2 separate regions of the Homo sapiens genome follow, and region 1 is linked to region 2. A link means that fine-mapping ties the variant in region 2 to the expression of a gene that starts in the linked region. Tissue or cell type: whole blood. Region 2 holds a variant in brackets; the other region holds the start of a gene. All regions are shown on one strand. Distances are between the middles of the regions.

Region 1 (8,107 bases), 170 kb before region 2:
TATCTAGTTCCCCTTGACAGAAGTTGAAACAATTTATAGTCCTAATACACTTACAATATATTAGAATGCTTGTTTCCTCATATCTTCACCATCATAGTGTGTAATCAAACTTTTTCATCTGTGCTATTCTAATAGGTGAAAAATGATAACAGTATAACCCCCAAAAGAGAATTATCTTTTTCTCCACATCCTCAACAGCATTTGTTATTATCTGTCTTTTGGATATAGGCCATTTTAACTGGGGTGAGATGATATCTTATTGTAGTTTTGATCTGCATTTCTCTAATGATCAATGATGTTGAGCACCTTGTCATATCCCATTTGCCATTTGTATGTCTTCTTTTTTCTTTTTTTGTTTTAAATTTTTTAAAAAGTTTTTTTATAGAGATGGGGTCTCATTATGTTGCCCAGGCTCGTCTTCAATTCCTGGGCTCAAGGGATCCTCCTGCCTCGGCCTCCCAAAGTGCTGGGATTACAGGTGTTGAGCCACTGTGCCTGGCCCCTTTGTTTTTCTTATTGAATTTTAGCCTTTTAATTTGTAGGAGCTCTTTTATATTTTACTGAAATTAACTACAAAAATGAATTGCACCAGCTTGGGCAACATGGTGAGACCCTGTCTCTACCAAAAATACAAAAAATTAGCCGGGCATGGTGACACGTGCCTGTGATTCCAGCTACTCGGGAGGCTGAAGTGGGAGGATCACTTGAGCCCAGGAGGCGGAGGTTGCAGTGACCCAAGATCATGCCGCTGCACTGCAATCCAGCCTGAGTTAGAGTAAGACCCCATCTCAAACAAACAAACAAACAAACAAAAAACCCACAAAAATGAGTTGCTGCTATTTTTTCCAGTTTGTCATTTTCCTTTTGGCTTATCTGGTGATTTTTTTTGCCCTTTTTTTTTTTTTTTTTTTTTTTTTTTAAAGAGACAGGGTCTTACTGTGTTGCCCAGGCTGGTCTTCAACTCCTGGCCTCAAGCTATGCTTCTACCTCGGCCACTGGAGTTGTTGGGATTACAGGCATGTACCACCATGCCCGGCTCATACATTTATAAAAATTGAATTTATCGGTCTTTTAGATCTTGTGTCATAGTGAAAGTGTCTTTTTCCGTTCTGAGGTTATAAATGAATCATTGTATGGTTTTATTGTTTACATTTAAATCTTTGACATATCTGGAGTTTTTGCTAGTGTATTGTATAGGGTATGGATCCAACATTTTTTCTAGATAGCCCATTTGTCTGAATGAGAAACTTTTTTTTTTTTGAGACGGAGTCTTGCTCTTGTTGCCCAGGCTAGAGTGCAATGGCGTGATCTAGCTCACCACAACCTCCACCTTCCGTGTTCAAGCGATTCTCCTGACTCAGCCTCCCGTGTAGCTAAGAATTACAGGCATGCGCCACCTTGCCCAGCTAGTTTTGTTATTTTTAGTAGAGAGGGGGTTTTTCCATGTTGGTCAGGCTGGTCTCAAACTCCCGACCTCAGGTGATCCACCCGCCTCGGCCTCCCAAAGTGCTGGAATTGCAGGTGTGAGCCACCTCGCCCGGCCCTGAATGGGAAACTTTTTACTGCTGTCATTCTTGGACTATCCTCCACATGCACGTGGATCATATTTCTGTTTGCTCAGCCCAGACATCAGAACTCAGATGCCTGTAGAGACTAGGCAAGTTACATAAAAGGGTGAAGAGTGCCAGGTGGGAAGTATAGCCAACTGGAAATGGATGGCATATTTTTATAAAGAGGGCAGCCACTACCCGGTGCCTGCTGATTACTCTCTTGCACGAATGCAGTAGGTCCCAGTGTTGCCAGATCTTTGTCAAGAGAAGCTGAAAATATACATTTTTATATGAAGCCTCTTGATTTTAAAATGTTAACAATTAAATTTAAATACAGCCTTAGCTAAACAAAATATGTCTTCAGGCCTGACTTGGCCCAGAAAAGCCTTCTGATATTCCTAGCCAAGAATGAGATTTCTAACAAGTTTACTCTCCTATGAGTAAAGAGAACATACATGGTCTAGTAGTTTGACATCACAGTAGTTTATAGCTGGAGTCTGGGAACAGGAGAGAAAAGTAAGGACCCTCTATATAAGCCAAAGTCTTCGCTCTCACAGACTGAAACATTAATGGGAGAAATACAAGCATTTTACCATCCCACCTTTTATCCCAAGTACATGTGAATGGATATGGCCATTTATTAGAGGATGTTCTTGATTTAGTGGATACTTTAGTGGATTAGAAAAATAATCTTATTTTCCAACTCTGCCATTCTGATTTTGCCCAAATGAAAAAGTGGTGCATGTTTTGGGGAGAATAATTGCTCAGCTACTGATGCCGGAACTGAATTGTAGTACTGACTTATTTTTTGTACCCTGTTCGTCTTTTCCCTTTCTCACTGCTGGTGGCTAGGGACAGGGAGTAAAATATCTTCTTTACAACCTGTTAAAAGTAATGTGCTCAGCCTCTTTAGTGGGATGAAATTTGTGGTAATGAGTTACCAGAGCCTATGCCTCTTTGGATTGAAAAGCTTGTCAGGATCTTTTCTGGGTTGCTAATGAGTGTTTCCTAGACGCCGATCCAGGTTTTGTAGGACCTGAAGCCTACACAATTTGGATGACACGATTAAGAAAACAATTCGAAAATATCTTGAAAGTTTTGTAAAAACGATATGATTTTGTGAACGCACAGGGGCCCGTGCAAGTGAAGGACCTTTCAATTCAAGCTTGATCAACGTCACTGTCATCTGCCCCTTCTGACCCTACCACCAGGCTAAGGGCTTTCCACGCCTCATCTCTCGGTCCCCACACCATCACCCTAAGAAATAGTTACTGTATCTCCTAACGATATATTATATATAGTACCTACTTTGTGTAAACATACGGTACTCATGAAAACAAGCCACGTAGAGCACAAATACGTTAAATATCCTGTCCAGCCCGAATGCCCCTTTCTCTCCACGTCCCTATGCAGCCTCCCACGACGGTAGTCCTGGGGCTCCAGCGCTACAAGAGTGGCACCGAGTCCGGATTGTCTTAAGCAGGTCGAGAGGAGGGAGCATATGGGTAAAAAGCAGTCAAACTGAAGAGTCTGGAGCGGCCCCCAGCACAGTCTCGGGAAAAGCGGACTCCCCCGGGGCCCCAGGCCCCGCACCCCCGCGCCGGGCTGGCGCCTGTGCCTGCTCCGCGGCGCGCATGCTCCGTGTTAGGCCTCTTGGGCTATTCGGGATAATGAGCGCCGGGCCGAGGGGGCGGGCCGAGCCTCGGCTGCTGGGACTCAGGGCTCAGCGGCGACCCCAAGGCACTCTGCGCTGCTGCTAAAGGGGCAGCAACGGCGGCCAGCGCTGTGCGCGCCATAGCGAGGCTCGCTCGCCCGACGCGCACTCCGGGTCGGTCCCCAGAGCTCTGTGGAGGTGACTCGAGTGGGCAGGGCCGGGCGGCGCTGTCGGCTGGGAGGGCGGGGAGGAGGCGATGAGGAGACGAGCAGCCGCCGCCGCCGCCGCCGCTGCTCACCGCCCGCCGCGGCCGTAGCGGGAGTCGGGGCGGGGCTGGGCCAGCTGTACCCCTGACGGGCCGCGAACCCAGACAAAGGAGGAGGAGCCGCCCCAGAAGCGGGCCAGCGCCGCCGGGAAAGGAGGTCGCCGCCCGGGGTCGCCCGGGCTTGCGGGTCGCCGCGCTTCCTCTGCGGGCGCTGCGGGAGGCGAGGGCCGCCTCGGCGGAGGAAGCCGACCCCGGGGTCTCCGCCAGCCCGCCGGCGCCGCCTCCGAGCCGCCTCGGCCGTAGCCTCGGCCCGGGCGGGAGGCGGCGGCCGCCGGCGAGGCGAGGCGGCCCGCGCCCTGCCTGTCAGGCCACCGGCCCGGCCCGCGGGCTGCCCCCGATGCGGAGGCGCTGTCGCCGGGGCCATGCAGCAGGCGCCGCAGCCTTACGAGTTCTTCAGCGAGGAGAACAGTCCGAAATGGCGGGGACTGTTGGTCTCGGCCCTGCGGAAGGTCAGTGCTAGGGGCGGGGCGGCCGGCGGGTGGCCCGTGGCCCCCCGAGCTTCTAACGGGGAGCAGGTCGTCCCTCCCACAGGGCTCGAGTCCCCGGGGCCGAGCCGTTTCTCGTTGGCTGGCAATGGGGGGCTCACAATTGCCTGTTGCATTCTGAAGGACGTTTCTCAAGTTTTTTTTTTTTGCCTGGTCCCGGAAGGAAGGTTTTGTTATGATCATAAAACTGGATTTCATGTTGCAGTCATTTCGTCAGGCAACTTCCGCCGTTGACCAATTTGTTGTCCTCAGGCTGGAATCGGGCAAGAGAAAGTCCCGCTGGTATTTAGACAGTTTCTAAAACAAAAGCACATTTTCAGGCCGGGTAATTACTTTTAATTAAGTTCTTTGGGAGTGTTCCCCCTAGGCGGTTTGCTTGTCAAGGGTATCCACTTATGAGGCAATGGTTTTTTGTAATATGGATGTTTCACATGTGTGAAATGTCAGTGAGTCATAATATTCTTATTCATTTTACAGTTCTCAAGGTAAATTTAAAGCGCCTTCCCACTTCCTGCAAACGGTGTCTTACCTGTTTACAAGAGATTACCCTTAGAAAATTTGGTCAGTGTCTTCAGTGTCTTCACGACCAAATTGCGATTTAGGACTTGAAATCATTTTAAGGAACAAGAAAGGGGCAACTCCTGCAAATCAGTCTTTCATGTTTGGGTGCATTGCTAGGGTGCATCTTTCCTGTAGATGGTGGCGGTCTTCCTCTGTGAATTTAGGTAGTAACCATACGATCATTTTTATAATAAATCCTTCTGTAAGATCAAGACATTTAAAGACTGTGAATAGGTGCGTGATCAGCTGTCATGCCTGTTGAGCAGGGGCTTTCTTTCTTTGCCGTTAATGCAGACTTAGTCTCTTCTGCCTTTTGTGCAAAATAACCAAGAATACATTCTAAAATAAGGAAAAAATAAAGATTAATTTAAAAGACTATACTTGGAAAATATATCCTCAGACATTAAATTTCTATAAATGAAAGGAAGTAGTGTATTTTAAAGTTAAAGACATTTTCCTCATGCGATGAGAGTTGCAGATTTTCCCTTATTTTCATAATTCTTACAAGGAAGTATTGCTTTCCTCAGGGCAAACACTAAGTCGTATCTTTTTAAAGAACCTGGCAGAAATGACTAGTGGCAGCTAGACAGTTATTCCATTGGTATACCAAGTGCTAAAGTATTAAATTGACCTTACTTCCATGTGCAGCCCAATTCTGTAAGGAGAGGGAAAGAAATGAAAAGTGTGCTGAGTGGTGAAAATGAACTCTGGCCTGAATTAAAAGCAAAGGGGGAAATGCCTAGATAGTAATTAGCCCTTTGACCACAGACAAGTGTGAGTGCAGTAATCAGGTAGGCCTATATTGTTGGCAATGTGACGCAGGTATATACCCATTTATAACTTTCTGGTAGCAAATAGTATTTGGGTGTGTGTTGCATAACTTGTTCAATAGGTAGCTTTGATTCTAATAATCCTTTATGTCCAGAAACAGATTTATGTTTTCTTTTTCTTCAAATAGAGACAGGGTTATGCTATGTTGCCCAGGCTGGTCTTGAACTTCTGGCCTCAAGCAGTCCGCCCACCTCTGCCTTCCAAACTGTTGGGATTACAGGCATAAACCACCTCGCACCAGACCCAGATTTTTTTTTTTTTTTTTCAAGTTAGGCTGGAGAAGCCAAGATTAGCATCCAATCCTAGTCCATTGCTTTGGTGCTATTACTTTGCATTTATATTGTGCTTGTTTTCCTGGAACTCAGGTGCCTTGTAGATACTATGTTATATTCCACAGTTCTAGTATGTTCTTTATGAAATAAATACATCTAAGAAAATTTGGTCTTTTGAGGTGAATTCAGAAAACATTTTCTATTAACTTACTGTTGTGATAGAATTGAAATACATACGTATGGAAAATTTTTTTATATTTTTGGAAAAATTTTGGTAAAAGTAATTAAGATTATGTCCACTTTTATGGTATTTAGGACATTGCAACTTGTAGGTCTGTAGTGCCTGCTAAGAGCTGTAGCTCTTAGGGAGCTAAAGGTTCACTCTTTCTTTGCAGGAAGTTTTAAATTCTGGTATGCATCAGCCACCTTGTCTTTGTAAAATGAGAATTTCTACCATTTTGGGGGAGTCTCTGTCTTCACATTCAGAGCATCTAGAACTTGGCATCCTTCCTCTAGCTGACCAGATCGTTACAAAGACAACTAGGATTTGATTGGAATATCTCTCTCCTTCAATTGGTGTTGCCATTGTACATGTGGTGTATTCTAGCTTCATTAATTCACTTAACCATTATTGAACACATTTTACATACTTGACATGATGCGGGATCCTAAGAGTACAAAGTTAAAATAAAGGCCCCTCCAAAGATGTATACCATCTAAACCAAAAATTCTAAAATTTGAGGTTTTGGTTTATGTAAATGAGAGCGGTTCTGAGCTCAGAGTTCAGTAAGGGGTATTTGTGTGTCTATGAAAGCAGCAATGTAGCTTACTTGGCTCTGTCAGTTTAGTCCACTTGGACATCTTGGTGGAACCTCCAAAACTGTTAGAACGTAATTTTCAGAAAGGTAAAGTCATCACTTCCATGCAAATGTAAATGAACATGTATCAATTATTTTGATTCAGCCCATTGATGAGGGAACTAGTAAGATGTTAAAGTCACTTAATATGAAAATTTGAGGAGGTATTTATAGGCAATTTAATAAGGGAATATTAAGACTGTTGGGTTACATACAGAATTAGTTAATACCCTACAAGAAACATAAAAGAGTAGGCTTTGGGTTATATTTTCCTCTGGCTAAAAATTACTTGCATCTCAGTGGGCGTGGTGGCTCACACCTGTAATCCAGCACTCTGGGAGGCTGAGGCTGGTGGATCAACTGAGTTTAGGAGTTCGTGACCAGCCTGGCCAGCATGGTGAAACCCCGTCTCTACTAAAAAATACCAAAAATTAGCTGGGTGTGGTGGTGTGTGCCTGTAATCCCAGCTGCTCAGGAGGCTGAGGCAGGAGAATCACTTGAACCTGCTAGGCAGAGGTTGCAGTGAGCCGAGATCACACCACTGCACTCCATCCTGGGCGACAGAGCGAGACTCCATCTCAAAAAAAAAAAAAAAATTACTTGCATCTCTATCTGCTGAAAAGCTGTAACTTAATCTTATAGATGTGTAAAATAGTCAGTAGAAATTAATAAAAGATTCAAGCATAGCACTGTACTGAAACACAGCCAGTATTCTTTTGCTTATTTTCCAGTTTTGGCTAGTTTTTATGAAAACTGGATATCTATGTCTATATCCATGTATATATCCATATATACCCATATATAGATCCATATATATATGTATTTGACAAAGTCACCATTGTCAACATTGAAAATTCAAGGGATTTTTAAAAAACCAATCTCAAGTATTCATTGCATTACATAGAAACACAGAGATGGGCTGGGCGCAGTGGCTCATGCCTGTAATCCCATTTGGGAGGCCAAGGCGGGCAGATTACCTGAGGTCAGGAGATCGAGACCATGCTGGCTAACACGGTGAAACCCCATCTCTACTAAAAATACAGAAAAAAACCCAAAAAATTAGCCGGGCGTGGTGGCGGACGCCTGTAGTCCCAGCTACTCGGGAGGCTGAGGCAGGAGAATGGTATGAACCCAGAAGGTGGAGCTTGCAGTTGAGCCGAGATCGCGCCACTGCACTCCAGCATGGGCGATGGAGTAAGACTCTGTCTCAAAAAAAAAAAATACCAAAATTAGCCAAGTGTGGTGGTGCATGCCTGTGATCCCAGCTACTCGGGAGGCTGAGGCAGAGAATCTCTTGAACATGGGAGGCAGAGGTTAGAGTGGGCTGAGATCGCACCACTGCACTCCAGCCTGGGCGACAGAGCGAGACTCTGTCTCAAAAAAAAAAAAAAAGAAAGAAAGAAAGAAAAAGAAACACAGAGATAGACAAATAGGTTTATGGAAAAATAATTTTGGGAATAGAAATGTGGTGTTCTTTAGCTTTTTGCTTGTTCTTAAACTTTTAAAATAGAACCTCACCTAGATCATTTAAAAACAGAGAGCTACAAAGCAGAGTGAAATGACACTACTAAT
Region 2 (8,107 bases):
CAAGAAGGCAAAAGGAAGCAGAGGTCCCTGTTTTCAGGAGAGGACAGGAGAAAGGTGCCAGTACCCTGGCCTTTGGTTATATTTCCCTTTCCCTCTTCAGTAACACATTTCTTGGCAGGACATCTTTTCTGGAAAACCAGACTTGAGCTTGGAGTGGCTCAACAGCCCTTGCTGTAGCTAGGTTTGATGGAGAAGCTGAGAGAGCTGCCTGCACCCGGGTAGGAGGCTCTGTCATGGAGGGGCTCAGGCCATTGCAGGTTTAGGGCCTAAATGTTGTGCAAATATTTGCCCAACAACTCCCAGTGTGCCTTGGAACAAGCAGCAGGAGCGGCCCTGGCTGAGTCCCTGAAGAGAAACGTGGATGTGATGACTTTGAATGGCTCCCAGCTTCTACTTCCTCATAATTTGCCAGGATCTCTGTCGCCAACGAGCCTGGTTACAAGGAGAGGGGGCTCCGTGCTAGCCTGCTAGGCATGATGGAATCTTCCGCATTCTCCAGATGAAGCCCGCACACCCATGCCTTCATCAAGCAGCAGGCACTGCCAATGCGTTTTTGAGCTACAGATTTGTATTCCCAGCAATCTGTGAGATTCTCCCCCTAGATCCTCGCAAAGCTTCTGAATTTATCGAGTTCAAAACAGAACACCCAAACTGGCTTGTCTTGTATTCTCTTTCAGTTAAGGCTGCCTTCCCTAGTCCCCCTAGTTAGAAACCATTGGCTCATCCTTAACCCTCTGCTGCTCTGCCCTCTCCCTCCCGAGTCTGATTGATTCTCCCTCCTAGCTCTCCCCTCAGTGCCTGGAGTGCATGGGTCTGACCCAATGGGTGGTTGGCAGGGGTAGGAGTGGGAGTTGGGAGGAGCACATGACCCAAGCTGAGCTCATTAGATCCCAGGGTTTTTCTAGCTGCAGCAGGCTCTTTTCTCTCTAGATGCTTGCTGGAAGGCTGGGAATCCAGAGGGGCCTGTGGCCATGCATCTGCAGCCTGGCAAAGCCTGCCTGCAGCAGCGAGGGGACATGCTGCAGGGAGAAGCCATGATGAGTGGTGGAGAGAGACTTCCTGAGGGGACAGAGCTCCCAGTACAGCTGTCCCCAAACCAGGTCCACCCCCTGCCCCCATCCATCCTTCACAGGCCACCAGGATTCTTTTCCATGTTCTCCAACTTTTTGTTTTAAAAAAATCCAACTACAAAGAAGTTGACAGAATAATTCAGTGAATACCTACATACCCTTCACCTAGATTCACCAGTTATTAGCATTTAGTGACAGTTATGTTCTCTTTTTCCCTATATATTCATGTATGTGTGTTTTTTCTGAACCATTTGAAAATAAGTTGCTGATGCCATGACACTTCTCCCCTACATATTTCTGCATGTATTGCCTAAGAATGCGAACATTTTCCCCACAGTCACAATACCGTGATCACATTCAAGAAATTTAACAGGGCTGGGCGCTGTGGCTCATGCCTATAATCCCAGCACTTTGGGAGGCCAAGGCAGGTGGATCACGAGGTCAGGAGTTCAAGACCAGCCTGGCCAACATGAAACCCCATCTGTACTAAAAATACAAAAAATTAGTCAGGCGTGGTGGCAGGCACCTCTAATCCCAGCTACTTGGGAGGCTGAGGCAGGAGAATCGCTTGAAACCAGAAGGCAGAGGTTGCAGTGAGCCAAGATCACGCCACTGCACTCCAGCCTGGTCAATAAGATTGAAACTCTGTCTAAAAAAAAAAGGAAAAAAAAAGAAAAGAAATATTAACAATGATATAATAATATCTAATATTAATATATATCCACATTCAATTTTGCCAAGTGGAATTTGTTTATGGATATAAGATATTATGATAGTTTTTTTTCCCTTTTCAATTCAAGAGCCAATCATGGATAACAAATTGCATTTAGTTGTCTTATCTGTTTAGCCCCCGTAACCTAGAATTGTTTTCCTGTCCTTTTTTATATTTCATCATATTAGCATTTTTTGTATCCTTCAATTTGGATTTGCTTTTTCCTCATGATTAGAGTCATGCTGTATATTTTTAACAGAGATAACACTGGATTCTTTTCAGTGTATCACATTAAGAGACACATGATGTCAGTTATTGGTGTGTTAAGTTTGATCACCTTGTTAAGGTGGTGTCTGCCAGATCTTTTCATTGTAAAGGTACAATTTTCCCTTGATACATGGGAATAATTACATATATATATATCTGTTCTTGTAAAGTGGAAATTAAGTATATGTTCTTATGCTGGTTCCCTTGGCTCCAATTTCCACAGGTCAACATAAAGAAGGCCCAGTTGCACCTGCACACACAGTGGGTTGTGTTAGAGGGGAGGAATGCTGAGCTTAGAGAATCAGCATCTTTTATGATAGGCAATAAGTCTCTGACCTCTTCTGCAGAAGACATTATCTTTCTTATACTAGGCACTAAGCATGCCTGTACTTTGCTCCAAAGGGAGAGTCTTGTCTTCCAAGGCTATTTGCTATTCAAATGCCTTTGGAAAGAGATTCCAGAACAGAGGCAGTGAGTGCTCCTGCTCATAAGACACCCACAAATGCTAGAGACGCATGGAGAACTGTCTCCCAACAGATCCTGAAAAATTATCTTTCTACAACACAATCCAGTCATGTTATTCCCCTGTTGTGGCTGGTGGCCTCCCAATTCCTAGTCTCTGCACCTTCAGTAGCAGAGACCCCCACCTCCCCTGACCCACAGCTGTGCACATGGCTTTCCAGAATTTGGTCTGTGTTTCCCATCTTCTCTCTCAGCAAGGTGTGGCTGTATGATTAAGTTCTGAGCAAGAGGCTTTAAGAATAAGTAAGTGTGCACAACTTCTGTAAAATGCCCTTAAATGATAGTGTGCCTTAAAGGATAGGGAGCACGCCTTTCTCCTTCTCTTTCCTTCTTTGTACAACATAAAGTAGCAACCTCCCTCCTCCAAGGCACTTGCTAATTCTCTCTCTGCCTTGTTTGTTTCCACAGAGGTTACACCATTTGACACACTATTTATTTTGCTTATTTTGTATATTGTCTGTCTCTTCTCACTAGCATGTAAACCCCATGAACAGTGCTGGTGCTAGCATTTTTGTATCTGTTGTTGAAATACTGAAATACTTCTGTACCAGTGGGTGGCTGGTCACTCCCCAAGTCCCTGTGTGCTCCCCATGGCACCTCCCAGCTACCCAGCTGTCTTAGTCTTCTTGGGCTGCCATAATAAAATACCATCGACTAGGTGGCTTCAACAACGGAAATGTATTTTCTCACAGTTCCGGGTCCAAGATCAGGGTGCGAGTTAATCTGGTTCCTGGTGAGGTCTCTCTTCCTGGTTTGCAGGCAGCTGCCTTCCTGCTAAGTGCTCACATGGGGAGGGGGGAGAGAGAGTGAGCATGCTCTCTGGTGTTCCTTCTTCTAAAGGACAGTAGTCCCATCAGAACGAGGCCCCCCACCCTTGTGACCTCACCTAACTCATTACCTCCCTAAAAGCCCCATCTCCAAATACCATTGCCCTGAGGATTAGGACTTCAACATAAGAATTTTGGGAGAAACACAAACATTCAGTCAAGAACAATGAAACAGGCCTTGACTCAAATAGTAGGGGGCTCCCAGGACCCCACATCTGCATGAAGGCCAGTGATGCCCTGATCAATCAGTATGCTATACCCCTGAGGTGTTCAACAAATGCTTGTTGCATGAACGCATGACAGAGCCTAGGATGGCGCCAAGCCATTCCATTGTCCATCCCAAACTCAAGAAGAGCTGGAGTCAGGTTCTTCAGTGAGTAAAAATCAGGGAAATTACCAAGCAGCACTTCTCTGCTATTTTTAAACAAAGGACTTCTTTCCTCAAACCCTTCCTATTCCTATCTCATCCCACCCCGGCGGAAGAGGAAATGACTGAGCAGAAACATAGAAGGGGAATCATTTTTTCCCCCTGAGACAATCCATTACCAGGCCCTTCCCTATATCAATTATAGGATCAGCAAGTGCAGGAGAAGCAACACTGCACGGGTGTGAGTGCCGGGACGGGAACACGCAGGCTACCGTCAGCTCAGAGCCACACACATCTTCTCACTGCCTGGTGTGAGTGCCACACGGGAACACGCGGTCCACCGGCCAGTTCAGAGCCACACACATCTTCTCACTGCACTGTGTGACTGCCGGGATAGGAACATGCGGTCCACTGGCCAGCTCAGAGCCACTCGTAACTTCTCCCTCCCTGCACGGTGTGAGTGCTGGGACAGGAACACACAGGCTAACGTCAGCTCAGAGCCACTCACATCTTCTCGCTGACCTCACCTCTCAGGAGTTCCATTCTGCACCAAGGCGATGGAGCAGTTTAAAAGCCTGTATCTGTCACATTTTTAAATGTGCAAGCCTGGTGAACCAAGTGATTCCTCGTTCTGGGATCTACCTTTGAGAAATGCTCACACGCATGCTCAGGGAGGCATTGCTTCCAACAGCAAAAGCAGTTTAAGTAATCTAGATGTCTAGCAGCAGGGAAACAACTAATGGATGTATTGCTAGAGAACACACTATGGGTGGGGAGACAGGAGGACTGAGGAGGAGAGAGAAGGAGAGGTTTTGGGGCTGAGAGCTTGGTGGGCACGGGCTGCCAGCTGTCCCGGCTTCTGGCAGGCTGCTTGCTGCAGACAAGTGGCCATGGGGAAGTCATCACTCAAGAGCATTCTTGCAGGCTTTGCTGATGCCGATGCACGTGCAGCATGGGAGGAGGTGCAGGCCTGGTTTGACCTAACCATGGGTCCGTCTTTAATCACTATTAAAAGCAGTCATTGCTGCCCTCCCTGGTGGCACTGGAGTACTGAAAGTGTAATGGAAAGAAATTAAACTAAAAGTAATGTCTTAAACCTATTAATTTAGAATGGCCAAAAGGAAAAGAAGCCCACAGGAAAGAACTCTTGCCTTTATTTCCCATTAAATGAGCCAAAGAAAACTCTTTCCTTCAAATGACTGAACCCAGCCATTCTTCTAGCTCTCATTGTTCTCTGGTGTTTGCAAAGGGCACTATCTGGCTGCA[C/T]GGCTGTGCCAAAGAGCTCTCAGGACAGTCGTTTAACTGAGGAAAACAGCATGGCGGACCCAGTTTTGCTCACCGTGTCTGCAGGGAGTTAATAAGAACTCCAAGAAAAAATAAGTCTGGGCCGAGCGCAGTGGCTCATGCCTGAATTCCCAGCACTTTGGGAGGCCAAGGCGGGTGGATCATTTGAGGTCAGGAGTTCAAGACCAACCTGGCCAACATGGTGAAACCCTGAATCTACTAAAAATACAAAAATTAGCCGGGCATGATGGTGCACGCCTGTAATCCCAGCTACTCAGGAGGCTGAGGCGGGAGAATTGCTTGAACCCGGGACGCAGAGGTTGCAGTGAGCCGAGATCCCACCACTGCACTCCAGCCTGCACTCCAGAGCGAGACTCTTGTCTCAAAAAAAAAAAAAAAAGTCTGGGAAGCACTGGGTTAAAACAAGTAAAATACCAGCCGGGCGTGGTGGCTCACACCTGTAATCCCAGCACTTTGGGAGGCCGAGGTGGGCGGATCACAAGGCCAGGAGATCGAGACCATCCTGGTTAACACGGTGAAACCTTGTCTCTACTAAAGAATTCAAAAAATTAGCGGGCGTGGTGGCGGGTGCCTGTAGTCCCAGCTACTTGGGAGGCTGAGGCAGGAGAATGCCATGAACCCGGGAGGTGGAGCTTGCAGTGAGCTGAGATCACGGCAGTGCACTCCAGCCTGGGTGACAGAGTGAGACTCTGTCTCAAAAAAAAAAAAAAAAAAAAAGAAGTAAAATACCTTTCTTTACAATAGAGCCTTAAACATATTAATGTGCAATGCAAATCTTCAAGAAGGGTATGGAAAACCGTGTTGGTTTCCTGCTCAACATTCCTTGCCGCACGCCTTTGCTGAGAGACCCTCAGTTTTGTTGGTTTATAGCACCTGTGTGTCTCATGGGCTCCTCCCTGGTCCCAGGATGAAATGTTCACAGGTCGGAGCCATTTTCCTTCAGTAACTGCTTTAGTTATAGCCATGTGCTGTGGTCCTGCATGTAACGAATGCAAAGACGATCGGCCCTGGGAACCTCTAGGAAGGATTTCTTGGCTCTTAAAACATGACACAGGATGAGTACTTGCCCCTTCCTGCCTTAGGACATTGTCATGTGAAGACATGGGCTTGGCGCTACTGCAGTCCTGTTGGAATCATGAGGGAAAAGCCAAGAAAATCTCAGAGAAACTGGTCTTGATCTTTGATGCTGTTAAGTTGCTGCATTAACCACCCCAGAATGGCCCTTTGGGTTTGTCACTTTGTAGTTTAGGCCTTAGGGTATCCTGTGATGTTCAGCTCACAGCATCCTGAAACCAAGGGGCACATAAAGTGCTGACAGTGCCCAACCAATTCATCTGACCACAGAAGGTCCCCCCAGACTAGGCCTCTACTGAGAATGCCTTGGGAAAGGCTGACAGAGTGAGGAAGATGGAGGTGAAGGGCAGATGCTCCAGGCTCTACCCTAGGTTCTAAAAATCACGTGAGCACCTGGGCCTCATTTTCAACTGTGTGAAAAGAACGTGCCAACTAAAACAACAGAAGTCAAGCATCTAATACAGTGCATGTCACATGGTAGGTGTGTCATACATGAAGAGCTGTCATTCATCAAATGGAAGTGGGGAGGGGAGGAGTAGTCCAGTTTCCAAGTCTCATTTATGCCTGAGAGATCTTTGTAACTATTCCAAAAATAATAAGTGTTCCTTGACCCCATACCCATTTAGAGAACTCTCTCACCTCATTCAGCAGGAAAAAAGGGAAAATAAAGATTCCACAGATGTCCTAGGCAAGCATGCTAACTCCCGGGCCCCTAGTCCCTCACTCCTCTGCTAGAGCGAGCTGCGACCAACTCCCTGGATGGCCAGAATACTTCTGTGTCTGCTAATGGCTCTGAAACACTCCTCAGTGAGAACGTCCACATGTACTAGATACCCAGTTTGCTGCAGAGGAGAAATCTCCACTCTAGGCACTCATGGGGATGCCAAGGGGATTGAGTTCCTCCTCGTCCAGAGCTCTGGCTGAGACTCAGAGCAGCAGCCGGCAGACAACTGACCTGGGGCTTTGCTCACTCTCTTCTCTCTCTCTCTCTCTCTCTCTCTCTCTCTCTCTCTCTCGGTTTTGTTTATTGAGGGAAGCATTTAATTTGTAATCATGTATTTCATCCCCAGAAAAAGAATCCCAGGGTTTTCTCTCCTCTGTGCCTTTCTCGTGCTTCCTCGTGGTCCATGATGCCAGCTTCAGTCATCAGGTCAATAAAACCAAACTGATGGGATGGAGACTAATCTGCCATTTTTCTAGGTCTTTGAGTTGCACAGTAAATCTGGAGATGATCACTGCACATTTATTTAGCCTGCCTGTGAGGGTCACAACAATTTTCTCAGTTCTAGGATCAACGACGATTTCAAATTTTCCAAAGTTATCAAGCTTCATCATCACAATGAGAAACCAGATGATGATATTGGAGCACAGCCTAATAAGAACCTGGTGTTGGCCAGGCACACTGGCTCATGCCTGTAATCCCAGAAATTTGGGAGGCTGAGGTAGGTGGATCACTTGGGATCAGGAGTTCAATACCAGCCTGGCCAACATGGTGAAACCCCGTCGCTACCAAAAATACAAAAATTAGCCAGGCTTGGTGGTGCATGCCTGTAGTCCCAGCTACTTGGGAGGCTGAGGCAGGAGAATCACTTGAACCCAGAAGGTGGAGGTTGCAGTGAACCGAGATCGCGCCACTGCACTTCAGCCTGGGTGACAGAGCAAGACTCTGTCTCAAAAAAAGAAAGAAAGAGAAAAAAAGAACCTGGTGTCTGCTTCTCTTTTCAGCATTGTTGGTGCTCTGAGGGTGTCAGCCAGGCCACTCATGCAGACCATTGCGGCAGCACTGAAAATGGAAGAAAGATGGGATTCTGCTGTCTTTTGTTTTGGCTGATGAACAGCACCGAGATGGAGTGGCTGTGAGTATAAGCGTGTGTGTGTGTGTGTCTGTGTGTGCGTGTGCACGCACGTGCGTGCATGCATGCCTATGTGTCATACCCAGGTACTGTCTTCACTTTGTAGAAAC

What was found. PIP is the estimated chance that this variant, and not a neighbour inherited with it, causes the effect.
Region 1: it holds the start of SOS2, and the variant in region 2 is fine-mapped to the expression of SOS2 in whole blood (TOPMed, PIP above 0.99).

What each region holds. Positions count from the first base shown.
Region 1 is chr14:50,227,068-50,235,174 of GRCh38, reverse strand. It overlaps SOS2 (SOS Ras/Rho guanine nucleotide exchange factor 2), which reads left to right and starts at 3,597. Exons shown (of 23, transcript NM_006939.4): 1 at 3,597-3,978. The coding sequence starts at 3,892. RefSeq lists an enhancer at 2,686-2,775 and a silencer at 2,926-4,005.
Region 2 is chr14:50,052,667-50,060,773 of GRCh38, reverse strand. LINC01599 (long intergenic non-protein coding RNA 1599) reads left to right here. Exons shown (of 9, transcript NR_131171.1): 3 at 7,870-8,000. It also overlaps the pseudogene RPS15AP2. Among named protein-coding and RNA genes, the nearest start is that of LINC01599, 48 kb to the left of the region's middle. RefSeq lists enhancers at 4,593-4,712, 4,763-4,822. The variant C/T (reference allele first, on the strand shown) is at 5,032.